4 linked regions of the Homo sapiens genome follow. Each later gene encodes a partner of the first gene's protein in a complex. Each region holds a gene or a part of one and is shown in the gene's direction. Other genes may lie near its edges. The genes, in order: KAT14, YEATS2, KAT2A and DR1.

What was found.
Region 2: KAT14 (region 1) and YEATS2 share a complex: the UniProt entries of both Homo sapiens proteins name them as parts of the ADA2A-containing complex.
Region 3: KAT14 (region 1) and KAT2A share a complex: the UniProt entries of both Homo sapiens proteins name them as parts of the ADA2A-containing complex.
Region 4: KAT14 (region 1) and DR1 share a complex: the UniProt entries of both Homo sapiens proteins name them as parts of the ADA2A-containing complex.

The regions. Positions count from the first base shown.
Region 1 is NC_000020.11:18,161,578-18,169,501, forward strand, and holds part of KAT14 (cysteine-rich protein 2-binding protein), read left to right. Parts: intron 1-242; coding exon of another isoform or gene 243-245; coding exon 246-662; intron 663-799; coding exon 800-1,368; intron 1,369-7,924. UniProt on the Homo sapiens protein: Component of the ATAC complex, a complex with histone acetyltransferase activity on histones H3 and H4. May function as a scaffold for the ATAC complex to promote ATAC complex stability. Has also weak histone acetyltransferase activity toward histone H4.
Region 2 is NC_000003.12:183,770,367-183,778,290, forward strand, and holds part of YEATS2 (YEATS domain-containing protein 2), read left to right. Parts: intron 1-1,938; coding exon 1,939-2,197; intron 2,198-3,266; coding exon 3,267-3,428; intron 3,429-5,548; coding exon 5,549-5,757; intron 5,758-7,175; coding exon 7,176-7,334; intron 7,335-7,924. UniProt on the Homo sapiens protein: Chromatin reader component of the ATAC complex, a complex with histone acetyltransferase activity on histones H3 and H4. YEATS2 specifically recognizes and binds histone H3 crotonylated at 'Lys-27' (H3K27cr).
Region 3 is NC_000017.11:42,112,346-42,119,026, reverse strand, and holds the end of KAT2A (histone acetyltransferase KAT2A), read left to right. Parts: intron 1-623; coding exon 624-730; intron 731-1,009; coding exon 1,010-1,120; intron 1,121-1,212; coding exon 1,213-1,349; intron 1,350-1,430; coding exon 1,431-1,639; intron 1,640-1,865; coding exon 1,866-1,992; intron 1,993-3,193; coding exon 3,194-3,304; intron 3,305-3,991; coding exon 3,992-4,135; coding exon of another isoform or gene 4,136-4,138; intron 4,139-4,422; coding exon 4,423-4,537; intron 4,538-4,632; coding exon 4,633-4,669; intron 4,670-4,744; coding exon 4,745-4,808; intron 4,809-4,942; coding exon 4,943-5,027; intron 5,028-5,184; coding exon 5,185-5,378; 3' UTR 5,379-5,916; downstream 5,917-6,681. UniProt on the Homo sapiens protein: Protein lysine acyltransferase that can act as a acetyltransferase, glutaryltransferase, succinyltransferase or malonyltransferase, depending on the context.
Region 4 is NC_000001.11:93,355,622-93,363,545, forward strand, and holds part of DR1 (protein Dr1), read left to right. Parts: intron 1-4,871; coding exon 4,872-5,018; 3' UTR 5,019-7,924. UniProt on the Homo sapiens protein: The association of the DR1/DRAP1 heterodimer with TBP results in a functional repression of both activated and basal transcription of class II genes.

The DNA.
Region 1 (7,924 bases):
TCCAAATCTGAAAATCCAAAATCAAAAACACTCCAAAATCTGAAACTTTTTCAGCACTGACATAACGCTCAAAGGAAATGCTCATTTGCAGCATTTCGGATTTTGTATTTCTGGGTTTGGGATACTCAGCCAATAAGTAAAATGCAAATATTCCAAAAGCCGAAAACATCTGAAATCCAAAACATGCTTGTGCCCAAGCATTTCAGATGAGGGATACTCAGCCTGTATTTATTCTTTCTTAGCAGCCTCAAAACCAACTTTAGATCCCATCATTACTGTTGAGGGACTTAGAAAACGAGCAAGTCGGAATCCTGTGGAATCTGCCATGGAATTAAAAGAGAAAAGGTCTCGAACTCAGGAAGCAAAAGACATTAGAAGAGCCCAGAAGGAGGCCGCTGGCTTTCTTGACAGGAGCACATCTTCTACCCCTGTAAAATTCATAAGCCGAGGCCGCAGGCCAGATGTGATTCTGGAAAAAGGCGAAGTGATTGACTTTTCCTCCTTGAGCTCCTCTGACCGCACCCCGCTGACAAGCCCATCTCCTTCTCCTTCTCTGGATTTCTCTGCCCCTGGTACACCTGCCTCTCATTCTGCCACACCTAGCTTGCTTTCAGAAGCAGATCTGATTCCAGATGTGATGCCCCCACAAGCCTTGTTTCATGGTAAGAGTTTGTTTGCTTTGCTCTTTTATTTTGGGTATGGGCCATGGTATAAATGTACAAGTTTTCACCCCGTGGGCTGTGTGCTCTGCATTTCTTCCTTCCTATGTCTTGATGACACTGTTTTGTACTCTGCACAGATGACGATGAGATGGAAGGCGATGGAGTCATAGACCCAGGGATGGAGTACGTCCCACCCCCTGCTGGGTCAGTAGCTTCTGGGCCAGTGGTTGGGGTCAGAAAGAAGGTCAGAGGCCCTGAACAGATAAAGCAGGAGGTAGAGAGTGAGGAGGAAAAACCCGACAGGATGGATATTGACAGTGAAGACACAGATTCAAACACATCTTTGCAAACAAGGGCTAGAGAAAAGAGGAAGCCTCAGCTGGAGAAGGACACAAAGCCGAAAGAGCCCAGGTATACTCCCGTGAGCATCTACGAGGAAAAGCTGCTGCTCAAGAGGCTGGAAGCTTGTCCCGGTGCTGTTGCCATGACTCCGGAAGCTCGGAGACTGAAACGCAAACTGATTGTCAGACAAGCGAAAAGGGATAGGGGATTACCACTTTTTGACTTGGATCAAGTTGTTAATGCTGCTCTTTTGTTAGTTGACGGGATTTATGGAGCCAAAGAAGGAGGAATTTCCAGACTTCCAGCTGGACAAGCCACGTACAGAACCACCTGTCAGGACTTCAGAATCCTTGACCGATACCAGGTGAATGCAAGCACTTGCTGTAAAGCCCTTGGGGGCAGGAGTGGAGGTGGGGCAGGCAGCACTAGGCATTGGACATGGTTATGCTGTGACCTTTTAAATCCTGAGTAATTTGGGAAGAGAAAAGTAAAGTGCAAGGGAAAAAAATACAAAAATCGCTGGGCTTTATTTTTCAGAATTGTTCATTGTAAGTACACCTGAATACATCTGAGTTTTTCTTTTCCTTTAGGCATTCAAACATAACCTATAAGTTTTCTTCATCTGTCTCTCTTGTCTCTCTCTCTCTGAGGATAGATATGCATGGTTTGTGTCGTAGCTTTGACAAATTTGTTGAGGCCATGACGGTGTCTCTGACACTGTGTTGCAGAGGATCTGAAGGTGTGTAGACATCTGCGAAGGACAACATGAAGAAATAGCAGCCAAGGGATCAGTGTGGTATCAGTGTTGCTCAAAGGATGGTCGGTGGAACCCAAATTTTGTGGATGCTTCTGGGAACAATTAATTCCACTTAGAACTACCTGTATATACTCTCCCACTGGGAGGAACAAGAGGCCTTATTCCCTTTATCTTTGCTAGCACTTGACACTAACCAGCCTTTAAGTTTTGCTAATTGGCTGGCTGTAAAGTGAAATCTTGTTTTTTATTTATATTTCTTTGGTTACAGGTGAGGTTAAATTTCCTGGTTGTTTCTTTGTGAATTGCCTGTTTGGAGTCTGCATGTTTTTCTCTCTTCTCTGGAAGCTAGTGGGATCTGCTCTTCATTGCTGGTGTTCTGGTATTATTCAGTGATGTGCCGTATGTAGGGCTTATGTCTTTCCTTGTGCTGGACATGTGGTGTGTGGGCCCTTTCAATTTGAAACTTTCTTTCCTGAGTATGGAAAAGTCTTGATTTCCTATCTTCTATTTTTTCTGTTCTCTCATTTTAGAACTCCCCATTATTTGGATATTGGACCCTGTAGATTAAAAGTTGGCAAACTTTATCTGTAAAGAAATAAGTATTTCTGCCAGATAGTAATTATTTTAGGCTTTGCCGGCCACAAAATCTCATTCGGAACTCTTCAACTCTGCTGTTGTGATTGGAGAGCCGTAGTGAATGAGTGTGGCTGTGTTCCAGTAAAACTTTATCTACTAAAATGGGCAGTGGACTGGATTTAGCCTGGGGGCTATAGTTTACCAAGATCCCTACTCCAGATAGATCCTCTTTTCTTTTTTTTCCTAATTCCCATCTTTCCTGGGAAGCACAGTATTAACTGGCCTGCCTACCAGGAGCCAAGTCGGGAGGGCCCAGGAGCCCATCGTTTAGGAGGTAAACTGACTCTCCCTGTCTTCAGTACAGTACTCCCACCCTTGGCTTCCTGTGTCCAGAATCTCCCTCTTGAGCCTCTCCAGTCTTCTGCCCGTGGAGGGAAAGATCATTTCCTAGATGTGGGCAGTATAATTACTATAGGGGTATAATTGGAGCCTTTAACCTCTTAAAGAGCCTCACAATCCATAGTCATACCCCCCAGGCTCTAAGCCTGATGCCTTAGGTGACTACACTTCCCTGAGGCTGTGTTTTGTAAATCACCCTGCTTAGCTTCACCACTGGCTTAGGTATTGGCTTTCTTTGGTCTGTTAAGTCATTTGCTGCTTGTTCATATGCTTTTGTTAGTCATCTATTCACTTGTTCTTGTTCTTTTTTTTTTTTTTTTTGAGACATGGTCTCTCTCTGTCACGCAGGTTGGAATGTAGTGGCACAACCACAGCTCATTGCAGCCCCGAACTCTCAGGCTCAAGCAATTCTCCCACCTCAGCTTCCCAAGTAGCTGGTACTATAGGCACACACTACCACACTCAGCTAATTTTTTTTTTAATTTTTATTTTTAGTAGAGACAGGGTCCTACTATCTTGCCCAGACTGATCTCAAACTCCTGGGCTCGAGTGATCGCCTCAGCCTCCCAAAGTGCTGGGATTACAGGCATGAGCCATTGCGCCTGGCCAATATTCACCTGTTCTTTGTTCTTATTCTTGTGGGCCTGTCTGTTTACTGCCTATACTTAATTTTTTAAATTGTAAGATGTGTCATACAGATAGAAGGCAGCATAGAAATATGGTATAATTTAGATATTAGTAAAATAAATGCCCATGTATTCATCTCCTGGATAAAGAGTGTTGTAAACACCTTAGAAGTCTCCTGTGTACTTTCTGTTCCCCTCAGAGGAAGCCACTTTGACTTACAGTGTTAATTATTCTTTTGCTTTTTAAATGTGTATGTCTCTAAATGATATACTTTTCGTTTAAAAAAATACTGAGTAGCAAGCATAAATCTAGCTGTGTAAGTAAATTGCCACTATTAGATGAAGTTTCCTGGAGAAGATAAGCTAAATAGTCATTCTGGGTCATTGTTGTGGACTGAATTGTGTCCCCCTTAAGCATATGTTGAAGTCCCAACCCTGGTACCTATGAATGCAGCCTTATCTGGAAATAGGCCCTTTGCAAATATAATTAGCCAAGACCACCAAGGATTGCCGGCAGCACCAGGAGCTAAGAGAAGGGCACAGAACAAATTCTCCCCTAGTGCGTACCCCAGAGAGCATAGCCCTGCCCACACTGTGACTTCTGACATTTGGCCTCTAGAACTGTGAGACAATAAATTCCTGTTGTTTTAAGCCACCCAGTTTGTGGTGCTTTGTTCCTACAGCCCTGGGAAACTAATACTTACAGTGATGTTCTGGCTTCGGCTTCCATGAACCCCTTCTGAGGTAGTCACTGGCCAAGGTCACTAGGGAGTCCTGGGAAACATGAGGCTCACCATAGCGTATGCATCAGCCAGGGCTGTGATGTATACCAGAGATGCGGCAGAAATCTGGGCAGAGGAAGTGGGATCCTCTGTATTTCCTGCCTGAGCTGACAGCTTCCTTCCAGCTTGCAGAAGGTCAAAGCAGTTATTTGTGGAGTGAGCATCATCAGCTGGTCTTTGGGGTGGGCATGGGTGGTGTACAGGAGGCTCACCTGTACATGGTGAAGACAAGCTGAGCGTAGATAAGATTCTGGGCCACGACGCCATAGGTTTAAAAGATGGTCAGTGGCAGCAAGGACTTAAGGATGATAGCCTCAATATGTGTTAGAAATACCAAAATTGTTAGAAATAGATAATCGGTGCTGCGAAGAAAAGTCAGCACAGAGACAAAAGGTATCTCAGCAAGGCCATCTTTTCTTTCTGTAGAAAGGGTGCTCAGTTGCAGATGGAACAAAGGTGAGAGCACACTTGAACACAGGAAAAGCAGACATATTTATCCCTTACGCACTTGGGTCGTCCTTACTGCTGTGTCCTGCATCCACTGGCTGGAGCGGGACCTCACAATCTTAAACTGATACCCGATTTGCTAATAGCCTAAAACTTTCCTAAATAGGTAAGTGCAGGGAAGAACAAAGAAGTTGCTTACAAAAGGTTTAAGGAAGCAATAACATTTCCAAATAAGGAAGGGGCGTAGACTGTGGGCTGGAACGTGCCTGTGAGCATGTCCAACGGTTACAGAGGATAGGGCTTAACAAAGAGTTATTAGCACAAGGCAAGGAGACTTGAAGAAAGTTAGTCTTTAAAAGAAACTGTTATTTCTAACACTTATGATTTATTCTTTAACAAGAAGGAAAACTTTGAAGAGGAAACTTTTTACTTTCTACACTATGTCTGCCCCTTGGGTCACACTTGTTCACCCTTTGTTGTGAAACTCAGCAGGGGTGTTGGGATCTCCCCTCTCTGGAGATTCTTTTGCCCTCCTCTGTATTTGATCTCCTGTTTCCTGTGGCCCATCTTTACCTTGTTATAGGTTTATTCCCTTGTTCTTAATGACTTCCTGAGAAAAGCTGCATGGGAAGTAAAATTTGAGACCAACATACTGAAAAGACCCTCATTAAGTGAGGTTGAACCTGGAATTCCATACACAGCCACATTGTCTAGGTGAGACCTCTGTTGAGGACCACTGCACTTCCTTTAGGTTTTTTCTTTGAATCTAGTCAGAGTCCCTGGGGAATAATCTTCTGGGCTCAGGATGCTGGTTGCCAAGTTGGGGAAGAGGGACCTTAGCATTCAGCTTGTCAGGTACTCACACCTCAGCCCTCCAGCTGGATCCCCTGTTAGTTCTCTAGAGATCAGACCTCCTGGCTTCTGGGGGAGGGCAGCCACCCAGCAACAGGGAGTGGAAGGATCTGGGGATCATACTGCTTTCCACATGGTGTTTGCCTGCTCCTTATTTTATTGTCCCATTTGGTCCCAGTTCCAGAGGAATCTGCTGGCTGCTGCCTGGATTTTAGCGGGTTCTGTAGTATAGATTGGGTTAGTTCTCATTTAGCTTACCCAAAGCCACTTTGGGATTTTGGTGTTAAATCAGTTACTATTTGTCCATCTGTTTACCAGTTACTGTTCTAATTAAGTCAGCTTCTATAGTTTTAGTGGGATTTTGGGAAGTAGTAAAGCTTTATATGCTTGTGTTTTAACCCAGTCTTAACTTGGAATTTTAGTATAAATTTTAATGTATTTACACAGGGAGTGGCTGTAAATGCATTTATTCAATCCATACTCTTGTTTTATATTTATTCTTTGAATGTATTCGTAGCTATAAGTTTCTCAATAAGTGCTGCTTTAGCTGTGATTCTTGACTTTTGAAATGATGTGATTTTATTTCCAATCAGTACTTGGCATTTTGTTATTTTTCTCATTATTTCCTCTTTAATCCAAAGGTTATTTAGTTGTTTTTTGGTTTTCAGATATATGAGAATTTTAAGCTATGTTTTGGTAATTGATGTGATTTCTAATGTTGTATTATGATCAGAGAAAATAGTTTATGTGATGTTCATTCTGTACCATAAAGAAAGTTATACATTCTATTTTTATTCTTTTTATAGGTCCTAACTTAAGATACATTTATTTTTCCTTATTCTTTTTTTAATATCATGTGGTTGTCCCCCCAAACAAAAAAGTACATTTTCATGCACTTATCTCTTTTTTTCTTTTGTATTGCTTATTTAAATGACATAAATCTTTACTAAATTATTCACTCGTCCTATTGTTTCTTTCTAGATTAATTTCTTGCTGGACTGCTTTCTCTAACAGTTCTTTAAAAATATGGGCTTTTTGAGGTTAATTTTGAAAACTTATACGACTAAGAATATCTTCATTTCACTTTTTCATTTAAATGATAGCAGTCATATAAAATTGTTATTTTAGTTTTTTCCATTGATATTTTGAAATTATGACTTCATTATCATCTTACATACAGTGTCACTCCTGAGAACCCCGGTACTGATAAGAAATAGAAATTTTTGACTGGGCTCAGTGGCTCATGCCTGTAATCCCAGCACTTTGGGAGGTCGAGGCAGGCAGATCACTTGAGGCCAGGAATTTGAGACCAGCCTGGACAATATGGTGAAACCCCGTCTCTACTAAAAATAAAAAAATTAGCCAGGCCTGGTGGCGCATGCCTATAATCCCAGCTGCTTGGGAGGCTGAGGCTTGAGAATCACTTGAACCAGAGAGGCAGAGGTTACAGTGAGCTGAGATCATGCCACTGCACTCCAGCGTGGGTGATTGGGTGAGACTCTCTCTCAAAAAAAAAAAATTTTTTTTGTTTCTTATCAATTAAGTGGCCTCCTTGTTTTATTCTCCCATCTCCTAAAACTTTCAGAATTTTCTCTTTGTTTTTTATCTTTAATTAGTGCATGTTAAGTGTCTTTTATTTTCTCTTTTTAAAGCTTTGTTTTCTTTTTTCTATTATTTTATTTTCCAGCACATCCAAAACACAGAAATTGTGTTTGTTCTCATTTGTCTTACTTGACAACTCTGTTCTTTTGGTCAGAGGTATTTTATATGCTTCTTGGCATTTATTCTGCTTGGTGTTCGCTGACCTTCCTGAATGTGTGGTTTGGTGTCTGACATTAAATTGGGGATATTCTCAGTCATTATTGCTTCAAATTTTTCTTCTATTCCTTTCTGTCTTCTGGTATTCCCATTGTGTGTTTATTACACCTTTTGTAGTTTTCCGCAGTTCTCGGATAGTCTGTTTTGTTCTTTTTTTTCATCTTTTTTGTCTTTGCTTTTCAGTTTTGGAAGTTTTTACTGACAGATCCTCAAGTTCAGAGATTCTTTACTCAGCCGTGTCCAGTCTACAAATAAGCCCATCATCAAAGGCAACCTTTATATTGGTTACAGTGTTTTTTATCTCCAGCATTTCTTTTTGATTCATTTTCAGAGTTTTCATCTCTTTAATTGCCCATCTGTTCTTGCATATTGTGTATTTTGTCCATTAAGCCCTTAACATATTAAACATATTATAGGCATATCTTGTTTTATTCACATTGCTGTATTGCACTTCACAGATACTGCATTTTGTACAAATGGAAGGTTTGTGACAATCTTATGTCGAGCAAGTCTGTTGGCACCATTTTTCTAGTAGTGTGTGCTTACTTTCTGTCTCTGTGTCTCACGTTTTGGCAGTTTTTGCATTACTTCCAACTTTTTCATTATTATTATATCTTTTATGGTGGTCTGTGATCAGTGATCTTTGATGTTAGTATTGTAATT
Region 2 (7,924 bases), on another chromosome or scaffold:
CTCCGTCTCAAAAAAAAACAAAAAACAAAAAAACAAAAATTTCCTACTTATCAGTTGAATATGCTTTATCATTTCATTCTACCTTCTAAATAATCTTATTTTAAAATTTAGAAATACTCTAAAATTCCAGTAACATATGTAGAGAATTAAGTAATCAATACCCCCATATCCTCCACCCCAAATTTACTTATTCATGTTTACTTCAGATCTTTTTTCTCCAAATAAAACATTTCTGATAAAGTTGAAGTCCACTTTGTTCTTCCCAGAGGCAACAAGCACTGTCATGGCTTTGATGTGTAGCCTTCCACTCCATGCGCTTATTACATGAATACATAGTCATAGGAAACGTGATGTTGTTTGTGTTTTGAAGGTTTACGTAAAAGATATTCCTACTTACATTTTTCTGCAACTCCCTTTTCGCTTTCTTATTTTTCCAGTCTGTTTACACTAATATATCACTAATATATATAATTCTAGTTCATTTATTTTTAGTATGACCTTTCGTTGTCTGTTTTATGCCACAGTTTGTCCATTCCTCTATCTGTAGACGTTAAGAATGTTGTTGCATGCTGCAGACATTAAGGTTGCTAACAGTTTTTGGTAAAAATAATGCTATGTTGGGCATTGTTGTATATGTTCCCTTGAACGCATGTATGTTTCTCTAGGATATATTCCTAAAAACAATTCCTACTATACGGGGGTATGTGAATTTTCAGTTTTAGCAGATGGGCCAGTGCCTCTCTGGAATGGCTGTCCAAATTTATCTTCCTACCAACAGTGAGCACAAATTCCTATTTTCCCCACAGCCTCTAGTAACTTCTTGGTTTTAAACTCTTTTTCCCCCAATCTGATGGGTGAACAGCACTTCCTATTTTGTCTTTTTTGCCTTAAGAAGGTAGATCATTTGCATTTCTTCCAACCTTGTGGAAGTCTGTTCATCTAGTTTCTGGTGAGAAGTTCTTTTTATGAAATAAGGTGCTGGGAGTGGGAAACACTGCTCCAGTTTGCCATTCATTCAGTGTTTAATTTAACATCCTACTGTTGACTTTGTTTTAAAAACACTCCTGAGTATTTTCTTAAAAGAATTCATTTTACTTTTGGAACTAGATACTTCTAATTTTCATTATTTGGGTACTGGGGTCTTTTTTTTTTTTAATAGTTAAATATTATTCTTGCCTTTTTTTTTTTTTTTTTTTTTTCTTTTCTTAGGGTCTTGCTCTGTCACCCAGGCTGGAGGGCAGTGGTGTGATCACGGCTCAGTGCAGCCTTGAACTCCTAGGCTCAAGGGATCCTCCCCTGCCTCAGCCTCCTGAATAGCTGGGACTACAGATGTGTGCCACTGTACTGGCTAATTTTTTTTTTTTTTTTTTTTTTTTTTTAGACAGAGTCTCACTCTGTCACCCAGGCTGGAGTGCAGTGGCATGATCTTGGCTCACTGCAACCTCCACATCCTAGGTTCAGGGGATTCTCCTACCTCAGCCTCCAGAGTAGCTGGGACTACAGGTGTGTGCCACCATGCCCAGCTAATTTTTGTATTTTTAGTAGAGATTGGATTTCACCATGTTGGCCAGGCTGGTCTCGAACTCCTGACCACAAATGCTCCTCCTGCCTTGGCCTCCCAAAGTGCTGGGATTACAGGCATGAGCCACCACGCCCGGCCAAACTTTTTTCTTTATACTTCTGAATTTCCCAAATTTTCTATTAAAGTAAATTATAAAAAGTAGCTGAGGCAAGACAACAATTGTTAAGCTTCTATTATTGTAATACCCAAGTGTAAGAAATACAGTTGCCGTTCACACCTGTGTAGGTAGCTTTCCTAGATGACTGAATTAGGCTGCATGTATTATGTGCAGGCCTTTGTTTTGCTCTCTGCCAAAACGGTGACTGCTGTTCTAAGAGCTCTCGAAGCACCGTTGGACTCTGCTCTGTTTTGAACAGGTTGTCGGGGTACCAGTTGGGTCTGCTTTACCTTCAACAGTGAAGCAGGCTGTGGCGATCAGTGGTGGCCAGATCCTGGTAGCCAAGGCCAGCTCTTCTGTCTCCAAAGCAGTTGGGCCAAAGCAAGTTGTAACCCAAGGAGTTGCCAAAGCAATTGTGAGTGGAGGTGGAGGAACCATTGTTGCTCAGCCAGTGCAGACCTTAACCAAGGCCCAGGTTACTGCCGCTGGTCCTCAGAAGAGTGGATCCCAGGGTTCAGGTAAAACGGATCATCACTGGGAGCCCTTTCAGCAGAAGCTCTGTCCAAAATTTCCTTTGCTAGTGATTTTATTTGCTATTTGATCTGGTCTAGGAAAGCCTAGTTAGGTTGATGCTGTAAGAAGTGTATTGAAATGTTTGTTCTTTTTTATGGGACATTTTACATAAAGGTCTGTGAGTATTTAGCTTTAAATTTACACACACACACACACACACCCACATACACACACACACACGAACAAATCATTTCTCAGTACTGTGGGGGATTGGTTCCAGGACCCCCTGCTGCAGATAGCAAAATCCACAGATGCTAATCCACAGTCCCCTGTGTAAAATGCTGTACTGTTTACGTATAACCTATGTACATCCTCTGATGTACTTTACTTTATATCATCTCTAGGTTATCTTAATACCTAATAACAATGTAAATAACAATGTAATAACAATGTATATGCTATGTAAATAGTTGTTACACTGTGTTGTTTAAGGAATAATGACAAGAAAAAAGTCTGTACATGTTCAGTACAGATGTACTCATCCTTTTGTCTGCCAAATATATGGATATTTTTTATCTGAGGTAGGTTACATCCATGGATGTGAAATCCACAGATACAGAGGGCCAATGGTACTTGCCAGTTAGGAGCACACATTTGCCCTAACTTTGACTTTAAACAAATGGGGGAAAATATGTAATCCTCCATAGACAGGGTGATTATTTCATTAATCGTCCAAACCACAGTACTTTGGAGAGTAAAAAGAGTCATTATTAATAATTATAGTGGGACAGGTGTAACCTAGAACTGTTCTGGGCAGAACCAGGACGTACGATCATCCTATTATATACAGATATAAAGAGCCTCTGGCAGGCTCTTCTGGTCTATAAATTATTTTTTAATTAGCAAGATATTTAAGAATATCAGTCTTTAAAGCATTGTGCATCTGGGAAACAAACTTTGAATTTATTGCTTGTTAGTGTTCTAAAATAAGAATTTATTGCCTTGTATTTTAATTTTAGAGTGTTGCCCTTAGTTTCAATTTATCTTACAATTTTTTCTCCTTTACCATTTTAGTAATGGCAACGTTGCAGCTACCAGCCACTAATTTGGCCAACTTGGCAAATTTGCCTCCTGGCACTAAACTCTACCTAACTACAAACAGCAAGAACCCTTCAGGAAAAGGAAAACTGCTGCTGATCCCTCAAGGAGCCATCCTGCGAGCTACGAACAATGCTAGTTAGTGAAACCATTGGGTTGAATCATTTGGTTCTTGGTTCTCTATGTGTGTTCATCTTGTCCATCTGAGGGCAGTTCTTACCTGTTTCAGGAAGCATTTCTGTAACTCTGTTGGGTGGTGTAATGGTAGCATTTGCTCAGATGGATTTAACACATACGATAATTTAACTAGAAGTGGGTTTGCTCCTCAGCGTTTGCAATCAGAGATGAATCACTCTGGAGAGAGATGGCTGGTGAGGCTGTTGGGAGAAAGCTGTCTACATGAACCATGAATGAAGTGGTGTCTGAAAATTATCTGGTGATACCTGAGGGAAGATCCATCTACTTATAGAAGCTGGAAGTCTGTTTTTGGGGATAGGTTGGCATAGGATTGGAATCGAGTGTGTCTGTTTGACTTCATTTAGATCAGGGGTCCCCAACCCCTGGGCCGCACAGCAGAAGTTGAGCATGGACGAAGAAGCATTACTGCCTGAGCTCCGCCTCCTGTCAGATCAGCAGTGGCATCAGATTCTCACAGGAGCGCGAACCCTGTTGAGAACTGTGCATGCGAGGGATCTAGGTTGTGTGCTCCTTATGAGAATCTAATGCCTGATGATCTGAGGTGGAACAATTTCTTCCCCAAACCACCCCCCGCCTCCTGTCCCAATTCATGGAAAAGTTGTCTTCCATGAAACTGGTCCCTGGTGCCACAAAGCTTGGGGACAGCTGGTTTGGATGTATTCCTTACTTCTGCTAGGTTTGGAGATGGAAAGAGAAATACAGACTCTACCTAGGTTTGTAAGTCTTAAAGCCCCATGGAAATGAGGCAGTTTATCTGCAGTTAAAGAAACTTTTGCTTTGACATATAGAGAAAAACCGTTTGGGCAGTGTTGAAAAGGATAGGATAAAAGGAAATTATTTCCCTCTGAATCAGAAGTAGAAGGGTACAGCATTCAGGGTCATTGGAAGTTAACCGCCCTTGCCAAAATGCAGTGTGTCAGCTCATCATCCTTGCGTTCATTGACCATGATGTGTCAGTTCCACTCTCACTTGGTGTTTTTTCCTCATACCTAAGCAGTGGTATGTCCAAAAGTTAAATGTGTAAGAAAAGGACAATGTAAATATTTCAGAAGTCATCCAGGGAGCTACTTAGATTCTTGTGATATCCTTGGTGCAAAAATAAACCATTGGGAAGGAAGCTATTCCAATAATCACTGGAATGAAGGTGGAGAAGGAAATTGGAAGTTAGTATTTGTTGAGTGAATATTCATAGTCCAGGTAGTTCAAATGCATTATCTCACCAAAAGAGAAGTAAAAAGACTTCAAGGCTTTGAAGTGGGATTTGAAAGGCAAAGAAGAATGGGGTCCTGGAGTCATTGTAAATGAAGGAAAGTCTTCATTTTTCCTGAGACAGGGAGACAACATCGAGCACTGTAAAGTTACACTAAATTCCAGCAATTCCCTGACATTGAATCAGATGCCCAAAAGTTGGGAAGCACCTAGCTGAGCACATTTAAGTGTTGATTAAAATACTTGGCTAGAGGCTGGGTGCAGTGGCTCACACCTGCAATCCCAGCACTTTGGAGGGCCAAGGCGGGCGGATCATGAGGTCAGGAGATCGAGACCATCCTGTCCAACATGGTGAAACCCCCTCTCTACTAAAAATACAAAATTAGCTGGGCATGGTGGCACACGCCTGTAGTCCCAGCTCCTTGGGAGGCTGAGGCAGGAGAATCGCTTGAACCCGGGAGGCAGAGGTTGCAGTGAGCCAAGATCTTGCCATTGCACTCCAGCCTGGCGACAGAGTGAGACTCCGTCTCAAAAAAATACTTGGCTAGAAAATGTCAGTAGCAAGCCTTCTCTTGATCTCCCACGACCACGTCAAAGTATCTTCATTGTACTCAGAGCCGAAATACAGTCAGTTGTCATGCAGTTGAAAGGAAATAGATTTTGATCTAAAATCTAGGAAGTTCTCCTCACTCTTGTCACAGGGTAGGTAGATTACAGAAAAGACGGAGGAAAATGGGAAAGAAGAAGGAATGGCACTAAAAGGGAAACATCTCTCTGGGCTCATTTGTTTTTTATGCTAAAGCTTTGCTTGATACTTTTTATGATGTTGCTGTCATTCATTGTATTTTTAGATCTCCAGTCTGGCTCAGCTGCCAGTGGTGGGAGTGGTGCCGGAGGAGGAGGAGGAGGAGGAGGAGGAGGCGGCAGTGGCAGCGGTGGAGGCGGCAGCACAGGAGGAGGAGGAGGAACAGCAGGAGGAGGAACTCAAAGTACTGCTGGCCCTGGAGGGATATCTCAGCACCTGACTTACACATCTTACATCCTCAAGCAAACTCCCCAGGTCTGGTTCTCTGTAACTGATATTTTAAATCATTTAGCTATTGGATAACTATGCTTAATTATAATTGATTTACCTTTACGGCTCTGGGATCAGGGTTCAATACTAACACCTTAACCGTGTTATCTATATCTATATCTTGGCCGGGTGTGGTAACTCATGCCTGTAATCCTAGCACTTTGGGAGGCCAAGGTGGGTGGATCGCTTGAGCCCAGGAGTTCGAGACCAACCTGGGCAACATGGCAAAACCCTGTCTCTACTAAAAATACCAAAATTAGCTGGGCGTGGTGGTGCACGTCTACAGTCCCAGCTACTCCGAAGGTTGAGGTGGGAGGATTGCTTGAACCTGGGAGGTTGAGGCTGCAGTGAGCTGAGGTCGCACCACTGCACTCCACCCTGGCTGGGTGACAGAGTGAGACCCTTTCTCAAAAAAAAACTATGTGTTTTTATCTTTTTTGCTTGCTTTGAGAGAAGAGGAAGTAGAGATTGAGAAAGATTTTAGTAACTTATCCAGGATCTTCCTGCCAAGCCAATGGTAGAATTTGGGTTTAAGCCAGGCACGGTGGCTCACGCCTGTAATCCCAGCATTCTGGGAGGCCGAGGCAGGCAGATCACCTGAGGTCAGGAGTTCAAGACCAGCCTGGTCCATGGTGAAACCCTGTCTCTATTAAAAATACAAAAATCAGTCGGGTGTGGTGGTGCATGCCTGTAATCCCAGCTACTTGGAAGGCTGAGGCAGGAGAATCACTTGAACCCGGGAGGCAGAGGTTGCAGTGAGCCAAGATCACTCCATGGTACTCCAGCCTGGGGGAAAAGGGTGAGACTCTGTCTCAAAAAAAAAAAAAAAGGAAAAGAATTTGGGTTTAAACCCAGATCTTCCTGCCTTAAAGATTTCTACTATGCTAATTGCCTCCAAAATCCATGAGGTAATAAACAGTATTAATGTACAGTTGAAAAGTTGCTCATAGAAGGGAGTGATCAAAGAGATGGTATCAAGTTGTAATATTTAGAGTTAAGTTAGATTTGATTAGGAACAGGTTTCCTCCTCGTCTCCTCTTGTCACTGAAGTCTTGGCTCTTTTTGAAGGAAAGTAATAGAATTTTGGTTCCAGATGTTCTTATTGAGAAAGATGATATCAGTCTGAATGATTAAATCCAGTTTTGAGGACTAAGTTGCAAAACATGAGTTTTCAACAGGCTGCTCTGTAACTACAGTGCAAAGTTTGAGAAGTGGGGATAACTAATGGAAGTAACACTTAGAGCACAACTATTCTTTTGAATTATTTTGCCTACATTGCAGAATTAAAGGGGAGAGCGTTGTAGCTTGTAACATGGGACGTTACATGTGATTTAAGGGATCAGAACAGCCCATCTGAATTTAACAAATTACCGATTAGTTCTTTATATTTTTTTCTAACTTAGGGCACATTTTTAGTTGGCCAGCCATCACCCCAGACTTCTGGAAAACAACTCACCACTGGGTCAGTGGTCCAAGGAACACTGGGAGTCAGCACATCTTCTGCACAAGGACAACAAACGCTAAAAGTCATCTCTGGACAGAAAACCACATTGTTTACACAGGTAAATACGCCCATGCACACACCCCAAATATGGGGTGATTATGGCATTTATTTACATATTTACATGTAGTTTCTCTCTTTTCACAAAGAAATTAAGGTTACATAAGAAAATGAACAATAAGGCCAGGAGTGGTCGCTCACGTCTGTAATCCCAGCACTTTGGGAAGCCAAGGTGGGTGGATTGCCTGAGGTCAGGAGTTGGAGACCAGCCTGGCCAACATGGCCAACATAGTGAAACCCCGTCTCTACTAAAAATACAAAAATTAGCCAGGTGCAGTGGTGCGTGCCTATAGTCCCAGCTACTCGGGAGGCTAAGGCAGGAGAATCGCTTGGACCCGGGAGGCGGAGGTTGCAGTGAGCCGAGATCGTGCCATTGCACTCCATCCTGGGCGACAGAGCAAGATTCTGTCTCAAAAAAAAAAAAAAAAAGAAAAAAAAAGAAAAAATGAACAATAAAAAATATAGAAAAACAAAAATGAATCTTGAGGTTTGGGAAAATATAAGTAGAATGAGAAAATTAAGGACCCAGGTGTTATTCTCATATGCAAACACTTAAGATATCTTGCACAGTTAAAAAAATCAAGGTATAAA
Region 3 (6,681 bases), on another chromosome or scaffold:
CACCCGACCCTACGCCCCAGTAGATGTTACTAATTGTTTCCCATGGGGGCCTGGACACAGCCTCAGACTCCTTCCCTGCACAACTCTCCAAGAAACCAGACCTTAAGCTTGAAGTGAAACCAATTTCTACTCCTGTTCTGGTCTTTTCTGTACCATTTTCTTCTGTTCGGCCACACCTTTTAAAATCTAGGCCATAACTCCCCTGTTCAAAAAACCCTGACTGACTAATCCTGGCTCTCTAGTGCCCCCTGCCATCAGGTGGGAACAAGAGATGGCAAGGTGGGGTGGAGTCTGAGCCCATTTTGATACTGAGGGCAGTGAGGGGGCTCAGGGTGACAAGGTGCCCTGCCTGGCCACACAGCACAGGATGACATCAGCTCAGACCTGTCTCCCTGTGCCACACAGCGTGGTGAAACTGAGCCTGTTTGATCTCTGTCCTGGATGTGTCCTGTCCTCTTACCTTCAATTGGAGGCTCCCAGAAGACAGGGGCTGTCCCCTCTCTCAGGTCCCCAGTTCCCTAAGAGCAGGGTCTGTCTCTGACCAGCCTCCAGTCCCTCTGCTGCCTGGCCCAGGCTGCACCCTGGAGAACAGAGTTGTGGGACAGACTGTGTCCTCCCTACAGATTCCTGTCCATGCTGGAGGAGGAGATCTATGGGGCAAACTCTCCAATCTGGGAGTCAGGCTTCACCATGCCACCCTCAGAGGGGACACAGCTGGTTCCCCGGCCAGGTATGTGCCATGGTACGCTCTGTAGGGTGTCTGGCCTGCCTGGCTGAGCTAAGCCTCCTGGGTGGAAGAGAGCTCACCTGGGCCGGAGGCCCTGGATCCCACTGAGGGACCTGCCACCGGCTTCAGCCCCCCCAGTCCCTGCCTTCTCTCTCTCTCTCCTCAGCTTCAGCACCCCCGTCCCTGACTCTCTCTCTCCTCAGCTTCAGCCCCCGTCCCTGACTTCTCTCTCTCTCTCCTCAGCTTCAGCCCCCCATCCCTGACGTCTCTCTCTCTCCTCAGCTTCAGTCAGTGCAGCGGTTGTTCCCAGCACCCCCATCTTCAGCCCCAGCATGGGTGGGGGCAGCAACAGCTCCCTGAGTCTGGATTCTGCAGGGGCCGAGCCTATGCCAGGTGGATACTTGACCCCTGACCTCTGACCCTCATTCACTCCTTCCCAAACCTTTTTTACTGATCCTGAGCAACCTTGCCTGCCTCCCCAATAGGCGAGAAGAGGACGCTCCCAGAGAACCTGACCCTGGAGGATGCCAAGCGGCTCCGTGTGATGGGTGACATCCCCATGGAGCTGGTCAATGAGGTCATGCTGACCATCACTGACCCTGCTGCCATGCTGGGGCCTGAGGTGGGCAGCCCGACCTGCTGACCAGTTGGGGGACCCCCACCAACCTGAGACCCCGGCTCACCACCCCTCTTCTGTGCCCAGACGAGCCTGCTTTCGGCCAATGCGGCCCGGGATGAGACAGCCCGCCTGGAGGAGCGCCGCGGCATCATCGAGTTCCATGTCATCGGCAACTCACTGACGCCCAAGGCCAACCGGCGGGTGTTGCTGTGGCTCGTGGGGCTGCAGAATGTCTTTTCCCACCAGCTGCCGCGCATGCCTAAGGAGTATATCGCCCGCCTCGTCTTTGACCCGTGCGTCCCCCAGAGAGCCCCTCCCCCAGGGCAGCACACCCAGTTCCCTTCCTCCTCGGCCTCTTCACTCCTCAAAATTGGGGATCCCCTGCTCCCCACTTCTGAGGTTCATCCTTTGAGCATTCTTACTTCTCACTGCCCAACCCTGACTACAGCTCAGACTTCCAGGGCTCTGGGGACCTGAAGGGGACAGTCAGGGGCTATGACATGCCCCCCTCTCTCTTAGGAAGCACAAGACTCTGGCCTTGATCAAGGATGGGCGGGTCATCGGTGGCATCTGCTTCCGCATGTTTCCCACCCAGGGCTTCACGGAGATTGTCTTCTGTGCTGTCACCTCGAATGAGCAGGTCAAGGTGAGCGCGGCTCCCCGGCCCCAGCCCCAGTCCACGGCCCACTCCTGAGTTTGGGCCAGTTCGGAGCAGCAGGATGTGTGGCATGCAGCAGCCCGTTGCTCTTCTCTTAGTTAGCGGCCCGTTCCTCACATCCCCACAAGGTGGCAGCCGTACTTTGATAACTGTGGATTAGGAAACCACCTGTTGACAGACGGAGCCCAAGCAGCAGCCACACTTTGGTGGACCTGTGGACTTGGGTTTTCTGCATCACAAGAACATTTACATACATGGGGGAATTAATTACTTTACTTTTTATTTTTTATTTATTTTTTTGAAAGAGGGTCTCTCTCACCCAGGCCGCAGTGCAGAGGCATGATCAGGGCTCACTGCAGCCTCAACCTCCCAGGTTCAAGTGATACTCCTGCCTCGGCCTCCCAAGTAGCTGGGACCACAGGCATGCACCACTACGTCTGGCTAACTTTTGTATTTTAGTAGAGACAGGGTTTCACCATGTTGCAGGGTTTCACCCAGGCTGGTCTCTAACTCCTGACCTTAAGTGATTCACCCACCTCGGCCTCCCAAAGTGCTGGGATTACAGGCATGAGCCACCGCGCCCAGCCAAACTAATCATTATTACAGTAGCCCTATGCTGATAGTTTTGGCTTCTGTCCTTTGTTACAACAGACCCACTCGTAGGGTCTCTGGCTCTGTGTGTCGCATACCTCAGATCTGTGTGGTGCCTCATTGGCCCTGACGTGTGGGAGGCATTGCTCCTGCTGCTCAGACCTCTGGTGACTCCCTCTCCCGCTTCTCCCAACTCTGAGGCCCAGGGACTGGGAATCAGTGGCCTGTGTTGGGTTTGGACCCGGCCCTGCCACGGCTGGCAGCCTGACCTTGAACACATTTCCTAACGTAGCTGAGTTTCGGTTTTCTCTTCTGTAAAATAAAGGTGGTAATACTCGCCTCTGGGGTTAATTTGAGAATCGGTCTGTAAAACAGGAAGCACTGCACCTAGCCCAGAGTGAGCTTAGAAAGCCCGCACCCTTCACTTTCTCCCCATAAGCTCCCCTTCCTCTGTCAGCTGCCTTTCTTCCTCTTTGCCTGGATGCTCTCGCTCTCTCTACCTCCTTTCCAATCTACCCGCTCTTCTCTGGTCTCTGAGACCTCTCCAGCACCAGGCCCATCCTCAGCTCCTGGTGAGTCCTGCTTCCCTCCCCCGCAGGGTTATGGGACCCACCTGATGAACCACCTGAAGGAGTATCACATCAAGCACAACATTCTCTACTTCCTCACCTACGCCGACGAGTACGCCATCGGCTACTTCAAAAAGCAGGTGACCCGTAGCCTCGTCCCACACCGGTCCTTTGCCTGGAGGCTGGGGTAATTCTGTCCAGCCCCTCTGTGGATGGAGTAGGAGTCCCTTTGCGTCCCCTACTTCACCTGACACCTGCCAGGAGAGTCTCCATGCCTATCTTCTTTCCTCTGCTGCCATTGCCCCAGGGGAGAATGAGGGCCTGTGGGGCCAGTAGAGCAGGCCGGAGGAACTGGGGGTCAGTAGAGCATCCTGGAGGAACTAGGGGGCCAGTAAAGCAGGCCGGAGGAACTGGGGGGGGCACTAGAGCAGGCTGGAGGAACTGGGGGGCTAGTAGAGCAGGCTGGAGGAACTGGGGGGCCAGTAGAGCAAGCTGGAGGAACTGGGGGCCAAGAGCAGGCTGGAGGAACTGGGGGGCCAGTAGAGGAGGCTGGAGGAACTGGGGGGCCAGTAGAGGAGGCTAGAGGAACTGGGGGGCCAGTAGAGCAGGCTGGAGGAACTGGGGGACTCTTCGGGATGAGTCAGGAGTGGGCAGCTGACCTGGGACCTTTCCAGGGACAGTTTGAACCCTCACAGTGCCCCAGGAGGAGGTTCAGGAGCAGGAGGTGGCAAGTGGCACGTGCTACTCCTCTGGTGCTCCCAGGTGAGGGACGACAGAAGTTGGGAAATACTTATGGATGGACTGGGTCATGACCATCCACCCCCCAGGGTTTCTCCAAGGACATCAAGGTGCCCAAGAGCCGCTACCTGGGCTACATCAAGGACTACGAGGGAGCGACGCTGATGGAGTGTGAGCTGAATCCCCGCATCCCCTACACGGAGCTGTCCCACATCATCAAGAAGCAGAAAGAGGTGGTGTGCACACATGCGCATCTGTGGGATTTTTCATGAATGGGCATGCAGAGGGCGAGCACACGTGTGTAGACCTGTTCTACGTCTACATGCATATATGTGTGTGAGTGAGGAGGGGCAGGCCAGGATCTTGGCTCTTGCTCTGCTCCCTTGGGGAAGTTATGAGGGGAGGTGCTGGATTAGGTGGCGTTGCAGCTGGGTGGGTGCAGCCAGTGGCTCCGACTGTGGCCCTGGGAGGGGTTGTTGTTGGGGCTGGAGTTGGCCCCTCAGTCCCTTCCTTCCCTCAGATCATCAAGAAGCTGATTGAGCGCAAACAGGCCCAGATCCGCAAGGTCTACCCGGGGCTCAGCTGCTTCAAGGAGGGCGTGAGGCAGATCCCTGTGGAGAGCGTTCCTGGCATTCGTAAGCAGGGGTCTCAGTTGCAGGGTAGTGGGGGCACGATGCTTGGGGTGTGGACTGGCATTCTTAGAGACATTCTCCCACTTCCCACTTTGCAGGAGAGACAGGCTGGAAGCCATTGGGGAAGGAGAAGGGGTGAGTGTCAAAGGAGCCGGGTTGGGGGTGGGGCAGAGGGACTTGGAGCCTCAGACTTGGTGTCTCTCGCCCCAGGAAGGAGCTGAAGGACCCCGACCAGCTCTACACAACCCTCAAAAACCTGCTGGCCCAAATCAAGGTGGGGAGACCAGGTTTCCTTTCCAGGGCCCCTGCACCAATGGCTGTGGCCTCTTGATGCAGTGTGGGGTGGGTAGTGGTCTCGGGCTGGCGTGGGCGCAGCAGGGCTGTCCCCAGCCCGGCTCTTCTCTCCAGTCTCACCCCAGTGCCTGGCCCTTCATGGAGCCTGTGAAGAAGTCGGAGGCCCCTGACTACTACGAGGTCATCCGCTTCCCCATTGGTGAGGACCTTCCATTCCATCCCCTTCCCTCCTCTTCTGTCCCCACACCTGCTCCTGCCCTCACTGCGCCCTGCAGCCCCAGGGGGCCCACCCTGGTGGACAGCCCTGCCGTGGTCTTCAGCCTCTTAAAGCTGTGCTCCGTCTCCTGCTGCCCCAGACCTGAAGACCATGACTGAGCGGCTGCGAAGCCGCTACTACGTGACCCGGAAGCTCTTTGTGGCCGACCTGCAGCGGGTCATCGCCAACTGTCGCGAGTACAACCCCCCGGACAGCGAGTACTGCCGCTGTGCCAGCGCCCTGGAGAAGTTCTTCTACTTCAAGCTCAAGGAGGGAGGCCTCATTGACAAGTAGGCCCATCTTTGGGCCGCAGCCCTGACCTGGAATGTCTCCACCTCGGATTCTGATCTGATCCTTAGGGGGTGCCCTGGCCCCACGGACCCGACTCAGCTTGAGACACTCCAGCCAAGGGTCCTCCGGACCCGATCCTGCAGCTCTTTCTGGACCTTCAGGCACCCCCAAGCGTGCAGCTCTGTCCCAGCCTTCACTGTGTGTGAGAGGTCTCCTGGGTTGGGGCCCAGCCCCTCTAGAGTAGCTGGTGGCCAGGGATGAACCTTGCCCAGCCGTGGTGGCCCCCAGGCCTGGTCCCCAAGAGCTTTGGAGGCTTGGATTCCTGGGCCTGGCCCAGGTGGCTGTTTCCCTGAGGACCAGAACTGCTCATTTTAGCTTGAGTGATGGCTTCAGGGGTTGGAAGTTCAGCCCAAACTGAAGGGGGCCATGCCTTGTCCAGCACTGTTCTGTCAGTCTCCCCCAGGGGTGGGGGGTATGGGGACCATTCATTCCCTGGCATTAATCCCTTAGAGGGAATAATAAAGCTTTTTATTTCTCTGTGTGATTGTTTCTTTGGTGTAGTCCCAGCCTTAGCAGGCTCACCTTGGCCCCCAGGGACCTCTTGCAAACTGGAGGCTGCTCTCCCCAGCAAGCCTCAGGCCTGGTCCTGTGCTCCTGGGGTGATGGGTCCTACCTGCCTGCAGCCCCCCACCTCTCCCTCCTCCAGGCTGCTCCTGATCCAGATGCCAGGGCAGCAGGGGTCAGAACCTCCTGCCTTCACCTTAACCTGGGTGGATGTGGTTACAACTGACTGCAGAAGGGCCAGAGCGTAGAGGATCCTGTAGCACTGAAAGAGTGCTTCCCTGTTAGCACACGTGGTTCTTTTTCTTGGGGCAGGGATAGGAGATTCGTAAGTCGGCTCAGCTGGCTCCTCCCCTCAGTTTCAGTTTCCATTTCTGATTTCTGCTCTCTGCGCTGAGCACAGCGGCACCAGGCTGAGCTAAGCAGGGCCGCCTTGGGCAGGCCTACGTGGTGGTGCAGGCGAGACCCAGGCTGGGCAAGGCGCAGGTGTAGCCTGTGTTACTCCCACCCCCCCCCACCCCCACCTTTTGGCCACAGCAGGCTTCTGATGAGTTTTGAGGGTGTCCCCCCCCCCACCTCCCTCAAGTGGGGTGGAGTCCTGGGCAAAGGGAGGTCTCTGTACCGACTGCTCTGGCCAGGAGTTGGGATGAGTGGAGGGCCCAGTGGGTCTGAGTCCCCTGCCATTCCCAGAATGGAGCTGTGGCCCTACCAATGGGAGGTGATCATGCCTGCCAGGGCGCTGGCG
Region 4 (7,924 bases), on another chromosome or scaffold:
GAAATAATTGACTGCCTGCTATATCTGTCTTCACCTTTCTATCCCTATTATCTGTTTTTTTATTCCTCTTTTTTGTCTCCCTTGTTTCTTACCCTGACTTATGTATGAAGATCTCTAGTATTTCTTTACTATTGTGAGGATGACCAGCGGAGAGGTAATATTATAGCAGTTGCCTAGTACTTCTTCCCTAGAGCACTGAAGTTCTAAATATGAAAGAGTGGATAAGTAAATATATCTTTTTTATCACTTTCATTTTGTTTCATTTTTTAGACTTTAAATATTAACACAATGACAGCCTCATTTGAAGCTAGCAGCAAATATTTGGAAGGAGGGAACCTTTAATACATCAAGATTAAAGTTAACTTTAAATTATAAATGAGTCATTTTAATATGTGGGAGTGAGAATCTTAAAACATAATGAAAACCTCCAAAAGAAAAGTGAATTAGGAAATACATGCCTGCTTACCTGTCTTTCACACCCCAATTTTAGAAGAAAAATACTTGGGATGGATTGAGTAGGGGGCAAGAGAGAAAAAAATATATTACAGTAAATATCACTGAAAAATGTTCAATTTGTGGAAATGAATACAAATAAAATTTTATCAATCAACTTTTTTTTTTTTTTAAAGAGACAGGATCTCACCATGTTGCCCAGGCTGGAGCACAGTGGCTATTGACAGGCTCGATCAGGCACACTTCAGCCTAGAACTCCTGGGCTCAAGGGATCCTCCTGCTTCAGCCTCATGAGTAGCTGGGACTATAGATGTGCACTAGTGAGCCCAGCTCAACAGTTAGTTTTAAAGGCATAGAAATGTTTTTATGTTCAGAGAAAAGTATCAGCGCTGATACAGGGCCGTGGTAGCTAAAAGTCAATTAAATTTGAAATGTAACTAGTACACAGCTTTGCAGACCATTGAATAGACTACCAAATCAAGCACCTTTGCAGTAAAACCTTTGTAGAGACTTGAAATTATTTGAATTTTTTCCATGTCACAAAATTATACCAACTTGTAGTTGATTAGACCACAAAATATAGGTATGCTTATGTTGGTTGAATTTATGTATTTGATTTGCCCTGCAATTTTCTTATGAACTCTTACAATTTTTTTTTTTTTTTTGAGATGGAGTCTTGCTCTGTTGCCCAGGCTGGAGTGCAGTGGTGCTATCTCGGCTCATTGCAACCTCCGCCTCCCGGGTTCAAGCGATTCTCCTGCCTCAGCTTCCCAAGTAGCTGGGATTACAGGCATGCACCACCATGCCTGGCTAATTTTTGTATTTTTAGTAGAAACAGGGTTGCATCCTGCTGGCCAGGCTAGTCTCAAACTCCCAACCTCAGGCGATCCGCCCACCTTGGCCTCCCACAGTGCTGGGATTACAGGCATGAGCCACCGCGCCCGGCCTTAAAATGTTTTTAGCGAAGCTCTGTTAGTTGGTTTTGAACTCTGGATATTCCTGCCGTAAAAGTAAATATGCTATTGTGTTAGAATCAACTATTTTTCCTATTTCTTTACAAAAATGGATGACAGTCATTATTAGGGAGAATGGATGGTTTCTAATTTCCTAAGCAAAATGAAGTTTTTGTTTACTGTAAAAGTTGTCTTATCCTTGTTTTTTCTAATATCTATAGTCTTTTCCTTACTTATTTCTTCCTCTTTGCCTTTAACCATATACGGGTCTTCTGCATTTCCTTGTATCCCCCAAACCCTTTCATCTTTTGCTATAATGATCTGTGTTACCCACCAAGCAAGGTGGCACCTTCCTGTAGTCCCAGTTACTCGGGAGATGGAGGCAGGACAATCCCTTGAGGCTAGGAGTTCAAGGTTGCAGTGCATAACAACTATGCCTGTAAATAGCCACTGCACTTTAGTCTGGACAACATAGCAAGACCCCATCTCTAAAATAAATAAATAAATAAATAAATAATGATCAGTGCTACCATTTTTTGAAAATGTACAATCACTTATTCCTCAAATTTAACTTCTGTCCTACCACAGAGGCATTTAATCACCAAATTCAGTAATTTTTTTTCCTTTCAATTCTTACTCATCTGTTTTTTTAAAAATAACATTTAATGTAGACCTCTTCCTTTATTAGTCTCTGATACTATGGTTACTTGGATAGCTTTCCCCCAAGGTAATAGCTTTTCTTCTTCCACTTCACTACTGCCACCTACACCAGCACCACCCTACTCCTGCCCTTCAGTCAACAAATTTCAAGTCAGAATTCAATTAACATGTCCCTACTGTATGTAAGACATATGTGGTACTATAGATATAAAAAAAAATGAAGAATATATCATTATGAGACTGACTACTTGGATGAGGAAGATAACTATAATATGAGGCTGACCACTTATGAGAAAGAGATTCTGGCTGGGCATAGTGGCTCACACCTGTAATCATAGCACTTTAGGAGGCCCAGGTGGGAGAATCACTTGAGCCCAGGAGTTTGAGACCAACCTGGGCAATATAGTGAGACCCTCTCTCTACAAAAATAGAAAGAAAGAGGGAAGAAGGAAAGAGAAAGAAATCCCAAGTATGGAAACATTACATCAAATTTTAGGGGTACAGGAGTATGCCAACTAGTAAGCAATTATCTTAGCTCCAGACCCACCTTTCTATGCTCTGCTTTGTGACTGGACCTAGTACTCTGCAAGCCACATGTTTCTTTGCTAGCTGACTCTCCATTAGACTCTGTTGCCATATGGGGCTATCGTGGGAGATTGCATGGATGGAGGAAGAGAAAGGGTTTTCTCTTACTTTCTCTTGTCTTTCAGTTCCTTTGAACAACCCAGCAACACTTCTTCACCCTGGTTGCATCAGTTTTCCTGTAGCAGAGACTGAACGCGGTTTGCATTTTCTCTAATACACCACCAGCCTGAACCCGCACCCCATCCCCCCACTCTGGCAGTGTGGATCCCAACCCTTGGGGCCCTCCTCCAAGCGCAGATATATTAGTACTAGCTTATCTATGCCCATTCTTCCGAGGCCTGAGTTTCAGTTCCATGAAGTGGTTTCTTAAGCTTCTAAATTTTAAAAATTCCAGCATTTTCCTTTATTCCCTCAGTTTTAGGGTTGGTGGCTGCTTCCTGTAGCTGCTACTTTCATGACATCTTCATGTTCTCTTCCTGCCTTTTCAGCTCCCTAATAACAACTTTATACTTGTTTAACAATTCTTCGTATTAAATTTTTTCCATTCCAGTAACTCATGTGACATCTATCTCTTGATTATACACTGACTGATGCCAGGAGGAGAAAATAGTATTTCAGTTTGACTTGAAGGAAGGGTAGAATTTCAGTAAGTGGCAGGAAATTTCACATAGGATGAGTGTCAGCATGAGTAAAGGTAGCAAAGATGAGGAAGTATGGTGTATATTTGGGAAACATTTTGTGTTCTAGGCTTTTTTGAAGCACAAAGTACATGTTACAAAAAAAGACTATAGAGAGGTTGGGGTAGACACTAATTTGGAAGACCTTGAACTCTAGGCTAGGAAATTTGGATTTGATTGATAACAAATGATTTTTTTTAAAAAAATGAAATAGTGACCTGATTAGAATTTATATCTAGAAATGTTTGGATAATAAAGTCATGACAGATTATTCAGAAGAGTGAGGATTGTACATGGTAAAATCTTAAATGTTACTGGTTATGCTGGGCATCACTGTTTTCCTGTAGCATGTTCATTCAGAAAATACTGAGGGCCTTTATGTTAGGAATGCAACAAAGAATATGGAAACAATCTCTATTCTCAAGTGTGGTGGAAAAAAAGGATATAAACTTAGATAATTCTAGAACAAAGTGGATGGATATGGGAATGCATAGGGAATTATGGTATATTAAATAGAGCATAAAATATGGCTTGGAAAGGTCAAGAAAGACTAGCTGATTTGCATTTCAGATGATGACTAGGAATTAGCTATGCATAAAGGGGAGGGTCTGAGTTGGACTTAAAGAACAATTCCAAGAACAGACAGAGAAGGAGAAAAGGATTGTTTTGGCAGAGTCTAATGGGAAATTGTAAGACCTTTTTAAGAACAGGTTCATTTTTTCCCTTCTTGGTGTGGTTTTTCTGCAAACAGATGAAATTAAATTGTGAAGGAGCCTTAGCTGTTTCATAGGTAATTAATAATGTATGCATCCTGGTTTCTTAAATCCTGTGGTTGTTTTTAATAGAGGATATATCAGATGAATGGATTTTAAGTAGTATCTTTTTACTAGTGTGTATACGGGAAGGATATGTATATTTGTATGTGTGTATATGCAAATGTGTGTACTTACAGAGAGGGAATGAGGGACACAGAGAGATAGGCATATAGTAGGTTAGGGAATTGTAATAGAAACTCAGAAAGAAATAATGGGGTAGCTACTGCATACATGTACAGTACTTCTTTCCTATGAGGTAGAGGTACTATACTAGAGAACTTTTAAACCATATAAATAAATTTTAGATTGAAAAATGTTTGTATCAAAGTTGTAATATGAGGGTACAGAAGAGTCAAGTGAAATGAAAGGAAAAGAAGAGGGAAAGAGCCAGAGGGAATATTGTGGGTTTTTCACAATATTGGTTCCACTTTTTCAACTTCTTCAGTTGAATCAAAGGTCATAAATTACGTGAAATAAAACAGGGCCATTTATAAGAGATCCAAGTTTGAGAAATTTCTTAGACCTGTGTAGTTAGAAAAAAGCAATCTCTAATTATATTTACCTATAGAGTTTATGTTCTCCAGATGTGTGACAATTACATAGTACTTGGACAGTATCCAAGTATGATAATAAACTGTCTGAAATTGGCCTAATCTACATTTAACCAAAGTGTATATATTGTGGGTTTGTAAAAAATTGTTATTTTTTTTTATGTTTTGGGTGTTTAGGCTAGACAGCAACAAGCAGAATTGGCCCAACAGGAATGGCTTCAAATGCAGCAAGCTGCCCAACAAGCCCAGCTTGCTGCTGCCTCAGCCAGTGCATCTAATCAGGCGGGATCTTCTCAGGATGAAGAAGATGATGATGATATCTGAAATTCACCAGCTGAGTTTCTATTTCTTCTATAAATGTTTTTCCCTGCACAACAAAAACAGTGAAAGAAATGCTTATCTGTAATTTTGTATGCATCTTGGTGGACTTGTCATTGGTATTCTAGGGATGTCTGCTATTAAGTTTCATCTATTGTGTGCTATACATGTAAAAACTGTCTCTTTGAACTATTGAAAATTTAAGGTTCAGTATAATATCAATTTTGAATTTTTAATGGTGTTTATGAAATTTTAGATAGCAGCGAGTCCTTCGTTTGATCAATAAACAGTGTTACAGATAACTTCAAGTTTATAAAAATACAGTGAAATTTCTACAAAGCTCTAAATCTGCATTTGCATTTCCTCTGCCCTTTTAACTAAACTAAAACTTGTGAATTTTAAATTATTAAGGGGGGGGTGCTGTGTGAATCAGTAGACATTGGATTGGGTTGGTGAAAGAGTTCAGTTCTGTAGTATCTGAATTTGTCTTTTAAAATGAGTACATATATAGGCAATAAATATATATGCTCAGATCAATATACTTGTTTAGAAAAACTTCAAGACATTCAAAAACTAGGAAGGAGTATGTTTAATAGTATTTGTATAAATTTGGTGGTTATGTTTTTTTATTTTGTTTCTGTTTTGTGTAGAGGTAAAAACTATAGTTTTATTACAGCATAATTCATTTTGAGCTCCACTATGACATTTCAAAGACTGCCCAGTTTGGAAGTCTGTCATGATTTTTACTCTTTCACTCCAATTCAGTAATTGTTGATAGTATTACTTACCTAGTCCATCCATACTCATATTATTCAAATATATAGGTGGTACTTTTGAAACAATTACATTGGTTCTCTTGGTTTAACTGAGGTTTATGAATATTCAAACCTTTGCTGGGGGAAAGAAATGAAAGTTAATGAGCATGCTTGCTATGAGAGAGGGATTTTTAATTTAACTTGTAGTTATAGTTTACTTATTGTTTTTAGAATTACTTTTACATTTTCCCAACTAGATGGCCTAGAGTCCAACATTACCTTTTGAGATGACATTATTGTCTCCATAATTGAGTGATAGCTTTAAAAAAAAGATTAGTTTTGCTTAAGAAGTTATGTTACAACTGATCAGCCCTATATGAATTAACTGATCAGCCCTATATGAAACATAAGTTGTGTTATAACTTATCAGCCGTATATGGAACATAAATAGTTTCTACCTGCTTGTTAGAGAAGCTTTAATTTGGTTCTAATAAATACAGTATGGTAGTGTTTATAGGAATCCAGGATGTTGAAGAAATGGCATAATGTCTATATTTTGGAAACAGAAAGGAAAAGTCACTTAAGATAGTATTAAGTAATTAAATTCCTATGTCAGTTGCCAAATCTTTTAAACTTATGTATTCACCAAGCCCAAAAATAGATTGTGGCTCCCAGGATTCCAATTTTAATTGGAGAGCTAAGTAAGTAAAGTTTTATAACTGTTAGGTTTCTTAATGATCATATTTTGCAGTTTTAGTAAAAGGGAAATATTGTTATACATTTATTAAATATACTTCCCCCATGAAGTGAAAAGGTTAATTTTGCTGAATGTTTTAAGTTGAAGTTACTTCATGGATGTCATACCCATGAAGTGCATTTGGATGAGATAGAAGAAATTGTTTTTTAAAAAGTTTAAGTACCAAAGGTAGTCTAGTCTAGAACGATAAGTTAATACGTGTTGGCTTTTCTAATTTGTACTGTAACATCCTTATACTTTCTATTTTAAGTATATCTGTTTCTTAAGTAAACAACTTAGATATTTTCCACACCTTTTTTTTTTTTTCTGATGCAGAGTTCAGGTTAATATTTTACTGCATCTGATAATGTATTATACGTTTGAAGCCTAGTGACTTTTCATTTTGACATTCTTGTGATTTCATATGCTGTATTCTTCAAGCAATAAAATTGTGATGTGTTTTATAAATGGTTTTTATATTTAATGTTCTATAGAGAGATTTCTATTATTACCATTTTTACTATTTTCAAGAATCTTAGGCCCAAAAGACATTTTGGTCATTTGGTATGTAGTACCTGCCTTTTGTTTTTGTTTACTGTTATTTCAAAAAATGTGGTTTTACTTGTATTTTTATAATTTACAGTCCTAAGATCGAGGCATAACAAAGCTTACTTATGCAATATTTTATTTTTAGGTTTTTTCTTTTTTTTTTTTTTTTTTTTTTTTTTTTAGCATTTAAGAGTCACTATTATGTTTTGCCAGTTAAAATTTTTTAAATCTTTTGAAGAGAGAAACAAAATCTTCAGCGTTCTTGAGAAATAAAATTATTGTTCAGTAAGTATTTTTCCATCCCCTTGAATATATGTTATATATTCTTTTTCGGCAGATTATCAGATTAGTAAGTGTTTAAAAGGCATCAGTTTTTAAAACTGCATATACCACACACACACAAAACAGTACACAAATAAAGGTTTTCACAAATTAAACAAACTCACATACTAGTCTTCAGATCAAAACACAGAGCATTATGTGTACCCCAGAAGCCCTCCTCTTTCCCCATCTTAACACTGTCTTCTTTCTTGCTGAAAGTTACTATCCTGACTTCTAAAATCATAGATTAGTTTTGCCTGTTTTTTATTTTATGTAAATGTAATCATACATAATACACTTTTTTTCATTCATCATTTTTGTGAATATTTTAGTTTCTTGTTGCCACTGTAACAAACTACCACAAACTTAGTGACTTAAAACAACACAGATTTATTCTTTTATAGTCCTGGAGATCAGAAGTCCAAAAATCAGTTTCATTAGGCCTAAATCAAAGTATCAGCAGGGTTGGCTCTTTATTGAGGTTGTGAGGGAGAATGTTTTCTTCCCTTTTTTGGCTTCCAGTGACGGCCTGTATTTATGGGCTTGTGACC